Regions from separate parts of the Homo sapiens genome. Here region 1 is linked to region 2. The links come from fine-mapping of genetic effects on gene expression. Tissue or cell type: whole blood. Region 2 holds a variant in brackets; the other region holds the start of a gene. All regions are shown on one strand. Distances are from middle to middle.

Region 1 (4,388 bases), 30 kb before region 2:
TGGAGAAAAAAGCAAGTGACAACCCTTCTGTTCCTGCTCAGCAAAAGCTTTGATCACCAGCCCCCTTCCCCTGAATATACTGGAGAAAAATAACAGAAGTGCATTTCAAGGTCCACATGTGAGAAGACCCTAAGCTGTCCTGGCTGTTCAGGTAGAAGTTGTCATCTTCCTCAATGATCTCGGCTGTTGGAAGACATGGCCAGGCAGACAGAATCTAAAAGTTCTTCCAGGTGTGACATGAGTCCCTGGAGCTCAGTGACAGAAACCAGTGTCCAAAACCAGATGCCACCCTGGGGAGGGGGCTTTGGGAGTTCCTGGGAGGCCATAACACCGTCTGGAAGGCTCCTCTCTCCCACATATTCACAAAGTTGCATGATAAGCCAGGCCCCTGCTGGTCTTGCAGCATCCACCTATGATGCAGAGTAAACAGTGCCACACGTCAAGCTGTCCCCAACCTTGCCCTCGGTTCCACTACCAAAAGAGGGAACACTGGGCTTGCCCCAGCAAGGTGTTATTTATGTCAGGCTAGGGCCACTGTGGCTCCCAGCTCTTACTGCTTTCTAGGTGCCCTTACAGACTTCCCCACTGCCCCCTGCATATGCCAGAGTGTGAACATCCCCTCCCTCTCCACAGCCCCCACAGTGGGGTTCGGGTGGGCAGGGAGGTGGTTTCATCCCTCTACATACAGCCCTTGGAGACCTACCTAGGCAATTTGTCACTCAGGCTTCAAGCTGCCAGCCGAGGAGGGGAGCTGAGAAGACTCTATAATGAGATCTTTGCACTGTAATTAAGTGCCAGGCTTTGTTTTACACCTATCTTTCCCGCCTTGCCCGATCCCACCGCCAAGCTCCTCCAGGCAGTGAGTGGGGAGTGTCAGCTGCTCTGTGATTACACCCCAAGTGGCAGGTGGCAGGGAGCTCCTCCGCCTGCAGTCTGCGCCCCACCCCCAGGCTTCCCCCACCACCAGTCTTAACTCAAGACAGTGCTATTTCTGTCCTTGAACTGGGTTTCACCCCAGAAAGCCACTCCACCGCTTTCTCATAAGGCTACCTCCTTTTAACCCTGTGGTTGCACGGCCTCTGGGGTGTCCATTTCTTTCTTTTGACACGTCCCTTTTCCTGAAAGTTTCAGCAAACCCCATAGGCAGAGGGAGTTAGAAAAAGGAAAAGAGAAGTTAGGGCAGGAGGAGCACTGTTCTTATAGGACAGGAAGGGTCTGTCTTCTCTCTTGGGTCCTCCACACAAAATCGGAGCTTCCAAACACCCCAGCTCCCAAACATATGCAGCAGATTCTGCTGACAGGAATGTGTCACTGTGATCTTCACATTTTAGCCTGAAGTTTAGCCTACCTGAAGAAGCACCGGAGTGGGAGTGGGAGAACATGGGATGGTGCTTCTCTTTGGCCTGGCTGTGCTTTTGGACACTTCAGGTCTTCGGCCTGGGTTTCCTCCTCCGTACGATGAGGAGAGGATGGGAGGGGGCAATGCTGGCATGTGTGATCTCGATAGACACTGTGGAAGTCTGCAGAGACCGGAGCATAACCTCTGCCTCCTCTCCCCGGGCCTAGCCTCTCACAGCCCTCAGAGAAAACCCTGAGCTGCGGCGTGGCCGAGACGGGGGCGTGGCCTGGCAGGTGGGCGGGCCCTTCCGTGGGCGGGGCCGCGAGGTTTTCAGGAGCCCGAGCGAGGGCGCCGCTTTTGCGTCCGGGAGGAGCCAACCGTGGCGCAGGCGGCGCGGGGAGGCGTCCCAGAGGTGAGCGCCCTGCAGCGGCAGGGGATGGGCCGGGGGCCCTAAGTCGTAGGCAGCGCGGGGCGGGGACGCGGCTGCCTGCGGAGGTCGGACTCCTCTCCGCCCTCCTCCCGGGCTGTCCGGGTCTATTTTCCAGTCTATGTCCAACTCGCGCCGCCTCACTAGGCGGCGCTCTCTGCCCCGCGGCACCCGCGAGACGTGGGGTCCCTCGGCCCAGGGACGGGGTGAGCGTGTCATGTGGGTGCCCTGTGCCCGGCAGGTTGGAGACGAAGAGACCTCGGCACAGACGAAGTCACTCACATCCTCGCTTTGAAACAGAGCGGGTCCTTCTTGTGCTGTCTCGCTGTCACTCTCGCCCCCACCCTGTGGAAGAGGCAGGTGGCTTGTCCCCAGTCACTTTCTTCCTTGGAAAAGGGAGACAGAGGGCCATCTCCAGCAGGGCCATGGAAATCCCAGAAAGTCACTGAGCTGCTCAACAAAAGGCCCTAAACACCCCACCCCACAGCACCAGGCAGTGCACACTGGCCAAGACTCCGTGGTAAATATTGCTGGCCTTTATGTTGAGAGGGGGAAAAAAAAGCCTGCCTGTGAAGATCATTGCCCAGTGGCCATGCTCCTGTGAAAACACAATTGGAAAGCCATTTCCTAAGGGGCGAGGGTGGGTCTGGGACCATGCTGTGGCTTGGGTGATTGGTGGTTGCAGGAGTGAGGGTGCTGCCCTGGGAAGGCGCTGAGGCCCTGTTGGGTGGGAATCGACGGCTGCGGCTTTCTCCCGGAGGAGGGAGAGCGGTGTTGTTACCTAGTGTTGGGAACACATCCGTCCAGCACCGTGAACTGCAAACAAGCAGAGTAACCCTAGTGTCCTTCAGATACTGTTGCTGAGCAGTCACCTAGTCAATGAGATGATCTGTTTGGACGGCAAGTGCATCTGTAATGCCGCCCTCTTGCTCAGTGCCTGGAAGAGGCATTGGTGACTCCCCGCTAATGCTAGGGGTAGCTACCGTGCAGGAGCAGTCAGGCTCTTGCAGGGCCAATGTGGTTTCATCAATTTTCTCCTGCATTTACCCAGCCCCTCCGAATTCTGAGAAGTGCGTCCAAGATCTCTTGGACTCCTTGACTCAGTTCACCCTTGTTCTTGTGGGCAGAAAACAATTCCCAGTGTGCCATGCACAGCCAGTCAGAAGGGAAGCCCTGGAGCAGGGCCCTGGGAGAAGTTCTGTGGGGCTGGATGCTAATTATTCAGTTACTGGATTGTGGGGAAATTCCAGGGGAGGTCCCAGAGGAGAGACCGTGCTAAAGCTAATTACTAAGCAGTACAAAAATAATCTCTCTCTCTCTCTTTCTCTCTCTCTCTCTCTCTCTCTCTCTCTCTCTCTATATATATATATATATATATATATATATATATATATATGTAATTTTTTTTTTGAGACAGTCTCACTCTGCCGCCCAGGCTGGACTGCAGTGACACAATCTCGGCTGACTGCAACCACTGCCTCCAGGGTTCAAGCGATTCTCTTGCCTCAGCCTCCCAAGTAGCTGGGATTACAGGTACCCACCACTACGCCTGTCTAATTTTTGTATTTTTAGTAGAAATGGGGTTTCACCATGTTGGTCGGGCTGATCTCAAACTCCTGACCTCAGGTGATCCGCCTGTCTTGGCCTCCCACAGTGCTGGCATTACAGGTGTGAGCCACTGTGCTGGGCCAAAAATAATCTAAATTTCAACAATCAGCATGACCATGCCTGTGCGTATGACCCTAATTATCAGTCTGACTGATTCTTCCTTCCAAAATGATGGCAGAGGATCACCTCTTTGGATATTTACAGCTCTGAGCAAAGCAAAAAGCATGTAGGTGCCATTGTCTGAATGCAAAACCAGCCATGCCAGGTTTTCGGTGTTGTTTCTGAGGAGGGAGCGCCTCTCTGGAGGACGGTGTTTCCAGAACAGTGCCTCCGTTGTTCATTCCCGTGCATCAGGAAGTTTGGCTCTGCTGAGTGTTGAAAGCAAAACTCTCCTGTTTATTTGTCTCTGTATACTAACAGACTTAAACAGCAGACAGCACTGGAATGTCCAGTTACTGCATCCAGATGTGTTTGTTTCACTCTTAACATTGTGGAAAAGAATGCAGAAGGCAGATCCAAAGCTTCAATCAGATTTCTGAAGCTTAAGTGATTCCCAGCCTTGGTCCCTTAATGTGAGAGCAACAGCGTATAGTGTCTTCCGCTCTCTGGGACAAACCCAAGTTTGAGGCATAGTCCCTGCTGTCCAAAAGCTCCTAGGTCTAAGTAGGAAGACAAAACCAGCACCTGTGAAACAATTAGAGCGCAATTAAGTGCGAAAGTATGTGGCAGCATCTGCTAGCTCAAAGAAGACAGCTAGTGCAGACTGACTGGGAAAGGAAGAGAGAGCTTCACAGAGCCAGCTGGTGTTCAGCTTGACTTAAGAATGACCATCAAGGGCTTGGCCAGGCCTAGGAAAGGAAGCATGAGGATATATGAAGCTCAGAATAATGAAAGGCACTTGCTGCCCAGAGCCAATTCAAATTCCTGCCTTCCGGGAATTCTGGCTGTGGGTCCTGCCACTCTCTTCCTCACCCAGCCATGATGCCCTTCTTATAGCATTCTAACCATGCCTTT
Region 2 (4,388 bases):
CTGGGTGACAGTGTGAGACCCTGTCTCAAATAAATAATAAATAAAACAGTGCCTGACACATAATGGGTGCTCAGCAAATTTTTTTAATGAGTTATTGAGGAGAAAAACTATTCAAGATAATGTTGACAAGACAGCCAAGAGCTGAATCATGTAAGTACTCACAGGATTTTATTCCAAGTACAGCAGGAAGGAAGGGAAGGGCCCTGTACAAAGAGGAATGATATAAACCAGATTATGTTTTTGAAAGAACATGCTGGCTGCTGGCTGGAAAATGAAAGCAAGACCAGAAATAAGAGAGCCAGTGAGGAGTCTCCAGTCTGGCCCATGCAAAGAGATGGCGGCGGCTTACAGTAGGGCAGTGGATAGGCTTGGGAGGTGGCACCAACAGGACTTGCTGAGGGATTGGATATTGGGGGGATGTTTAAAAGAATGATGTTTAAAAGACTCTGCTGTGTTGTCACCCTGAGACTCTGGATGGATATGGTGAAGCCATTTACTGAGATGGGGGAGAAATTCAGAGTGGTGATAAACATTCTCACCAAGTTTTTCCTAACGATTATTAGATGCCTGAGTTTGAAACTTTGAGTCAATCCAGGCATCCATGCCTACTTCTGATTTGCTGTAGCTTGTGTGCCACAGCCTCCCAGTTTCTGTGGAAACCCCACCATACATCAGCCCCAGCACAAAGCACAACCTCGTCAGAGCTAGCCCACCTCCAGCACCGTGACTGCTCCAGGCTTAATCTCTCCTGGTGTTGACACTTTTGCCAGTGATGGTGTCTCATGGGATTCATGCTCTTTATAAACCATTGCCTTCTTCCTATTTCTTTCATTTATTTTTCCTCTCATTCTCCTGCCCTCTGAGCTATATAACTCTTCCTTTACCTTCCAACAGAGGCCTTTCATTACATTTAAAGCAAATGGAATGCATAGTAGGCACCAAAGATGGAGGTGCTGTGCAAATAATAGACACCAAGCTCTCTGCAGGTGGGGTCCTTGTGTGTTTTCTCTTCATAGCACCCAGCACAATACTTGGAACATAAGCCAGACACGTTCATTGAGCACCATTTCTGCTGCACCCATGAAAAAAACACTCAACCCAGACAGATGGTTAGCTCCCCGACAGGACTTAAGCAAGTGGGCCAGTCTCTGTTTATTGTCGTACACTCACACAATCACACAGCTGCCAGGCGAGCACTAGGCACTTATCACACTTTTATTAAACCGATCACATCTGGCTCTTTGTGGGGTGCCAGAAAGTGCCCAATTTCTGCATGATGGGATGGACTGTGTGTGGAGTAAGGTCGGATAAATGGAGATGGGCCAGTAGCCTAGACAAATTAAGGGAGAAAAACAGTGAATTTATTTTCCACTCATCAGCCGAGCTTTCTGTGGGCTAGGAACGGGGTACCCGGCTGAAGTGAAGCAACATTGTGTCTCTTCCTGCTGTTTTCTCCACCTCCCCTCAGCAAATCATGAATGAATAAACAAACGAATGAATGAAGAAACATAGAGTTATTATAAGGATTAAGTGAAGGCAGGGTGCAGTGGCTCATGCCTGTAATCCCAGCATGTTGGGAGGCCAAGGTAGGAGGATCGCTTGAGCTCAGGAGTTGAAGACCAGCATGGGCAACAAAGCGAGACCCCCATCTCTATATTTTTATTTTAATTTAGAATAATAAATAAAATTTTTTTAAAAGAAAAGATTAAGTGAAATGTTTTTTAAGTACCTAGAATAGTGCCTAGTATACAGAAAATTCAACGTAAGTGTTTGATAGAGAGCAAGAATAGGCCAGGTGTGGTGACTCACATCTGTAATCCCAACACTTTGGGAGGTTGAGGCAGGCAGGTCACTTGAGCCCACAAGTTGGAGACCAGCCTGGGCAACATGGTGAAACCCCATTTCTACTAAAAATACAAAAATTAGCCGGGTACAGTGGCACGTGCCTGTAGTTCCAGCTAATCAGGAGGCTGAGATGGAAGGATGGCTTGAA[C/T]CCGGGAGGCGGAGGTGGCAGTGAGCTGTGATCATGCCACTGCACTCCAGCCTGGGCAACAGAGCAAGACCCTGTCTCAAAAAAAACAGAAATAGAGTAAGAATAGTTTTGTCTGTATCTGCCAACAGCCACGTCTGTGGAGTCAGAGGAATGAAGGGGTCAAAGGGAGCAGGCACATCATAGAGAATACCCCCAAGATCTGAAGACCCCAGTGCAATACCTCGAGCTTAAATGCCTGTGTTTTCATTCTCCCTTCTTCTCCATAGGATCATGGGAGACCACCTGGACCTTCTCCTAGGAGTGGTGCTCATGGCCGGTCCTGTGTTTGGAATTCCTTCCTGCTCCTTTGATGGCCGAATAGCCTTTTATCGTTTCTGCAACCTCACCCAGGTCCCCCAGGTCCTCAACACCACTGAGAGGCTCCTGCTGAGCTTCAACTATATCAGGACAGTCACTGCTTCATCCTTCCCCTTTCTGGAACAGCTGCAGCTGCTGGAGCTCGGGAGCCAGTATACCCCCTTGACTATTGACAAGGAGGCCTTCAGAAACCTGCCCAACCTTAGAATCTTGGACCTGGGAAGTAGTAAGATATACTTCTTGCATCCAGATGCTTTTCAGGGACTGTTCCATCTGTTTGAACTTAGACTGTATTTCTGTGGTCTCTCTGATGCTGTATTGAAAGATGGTTATTTCAGAAATTTAAAGGCTTTAACTCGCTTGGATCTATCCAAAAATCAGATTCGTAGCCTTTACCTTCATCCTTCATTTGGGAAGTTGAATTCCTTAAAGTCCATAGATTTTTCCTCCAACCAAATATTCCTTGTATGTGAACATGAGCTCGAGCCCCTACAAGGGAAAACGCTCTCCTTTTTTAGCCTCGCAGCTAATAGCTTGTATAGCAGAGTCTCAGTGGACTGGGGAAAATGTATGAACCCATTCAGAAACATGGTGCTGGAGATACTAGATGTTTCTGGAAATGGCTGGACAGTGGACATCACAGGAAACTTTAGCAATGCCATCAGCAAAAGCCAGGCCTTCTCTTTGATTCTTGCCCACCACATCATGGGTGCCGGGTTTGGCTTCCATAACATCAAAGATCCTGACCAGAACACATTTGCTGGCCTGGCCAGAAGTTCAGTGAGACACCTGGATCTTTCACATGGGTTTGTCTTCTCCCTGAACTCACGAGTCTTTGAGACACTCAAGGATTTGAAGGTTCTGAACCTTGCCTACAACAAGATAAATAAGATTGCAGATGAAGCATTTTACGGACTTGACAACCTCCAAGTTCTCAATTTGTCATATAACCTTCTGGGGGAACTTTACAGTTCGAATTTCTATGGACTACCTAAGGTAGCCTACATTGATTTGCAAAAGAATCACATTGCAATAATTCAAGACCAAACATTCAAATTCCTGGAAAAATTACAGACCTTGGATCTCCGAGACAATGCTCTTACAACCATTCATTTTATTCCAAGCATACCCGATATCTTCTTGAGTGGCAATAAACTAGTGACTTTGCCAAAGATCAACCTTACAGCGAACCTCATCCACTTATCAGAAAACAGGCTAGAAAATCTAGATATTCTCTACTTTCTCCTACGGGTACCTCATCTCCAGATTCTCATTTTAAATCAAAATCGCTTCTCCTCCTGTAGTGGAGATCAAACCCCTTCAGAGAATCCCAGCTTAGAACAGCTTTTCCTTGGAGAAAATATGTTGCAACTTGCCTGGGAAACTGAGCTCTGTTGGGATGTTTTTGAGGGACTTTCTCATCTTCAAGTTCTGTATTTGAATCATAACTATCTTAATTCCCTTCCACCAGGAGTATTTAGCCATCTGACTGCATTAAGGGGACTAAGCCTCAACTCCAACAGGCTGACAGTTCTTTCTCACAATGATTTACCTGCTAATTTAGAGATCCTGGACATATCCAGGAACCAGCTCCTAGCTCCTAATCCTGATGTATTTGTATCACTTAGTGTCTTGGATATAACTCATAACAAGTTCATTTGTGAATGTGAACTTAGCACTTTTATCAATTGGCTTAATCACACCAATGTCACTATAGCTGGGCCTCCTGCAGACATATATTGTGTGTACCCTGACTCGTTCTCTGGGGTTTCCCTCTTCTCTCTTTCCACGGAAGGTTGTGATGAAGAGGAAGTCTTAAAGTCCCTAAAGTTCTCCCTTTTCATTGTATGCACTGTCACTCTGACTCTGTTCCTCATGACCATCCTCACAGTCACAAAGTTCCGGGGCTTCTGTTTTATCTGTTATAAGACAGCCCAGAGACTGGTGTTCAAGGACCATCCCCAGGGCACAGAACCTGATATGTACAAATATGATGCCTATTTGTGCTTCAGCAGCAAAGACTTCACATGGGTGCAGA

What was found. PIP is the estimated chance that this variant, and not a neighbour inherited with it, causes the effect.
Region 1: it holds the start of TLR5, and the variant in region 2 is fine-mapped to the expression of TLR5 in whole blood (INTERVAL, PIP 0.97).

Annotation. Positions count from the first base shown.
Region 1 is chr1:223,140,559-223,144,946 of GRCh38, reverse strand. It overlaps TLR5 (toll like receptor 5), which reads left to right and starts at 1,699. Exons shown (of 6, transcript NM_003268.6): 1 at 1,699-1,751; 2 at 3,184-3,299. LOC124904522 (a long non-coding RNA gene) reads right to left here and starts at 1,592. Exons shown (of 2, transcript XR_007066895.1): 1 at 1,349-1,592. RefSeq lists a silencer at 1,541-1,910.
Region 2 is chr1:223,110,907-223,115,294 of GRCh38, reverse strand. TLR5 (toll like receptor 5) reads left to right here. Exons shown (of 6, transcript NM_003268.6): 6 at 2,260-4,388. The coding sequence starts at 2,264. Among named protein-coding and RNA genes, the nearest start is that of TLR5, 30 kb to the left of the region's middle. The variant C/T (reference allele first, on the strand shown) is at 1,994.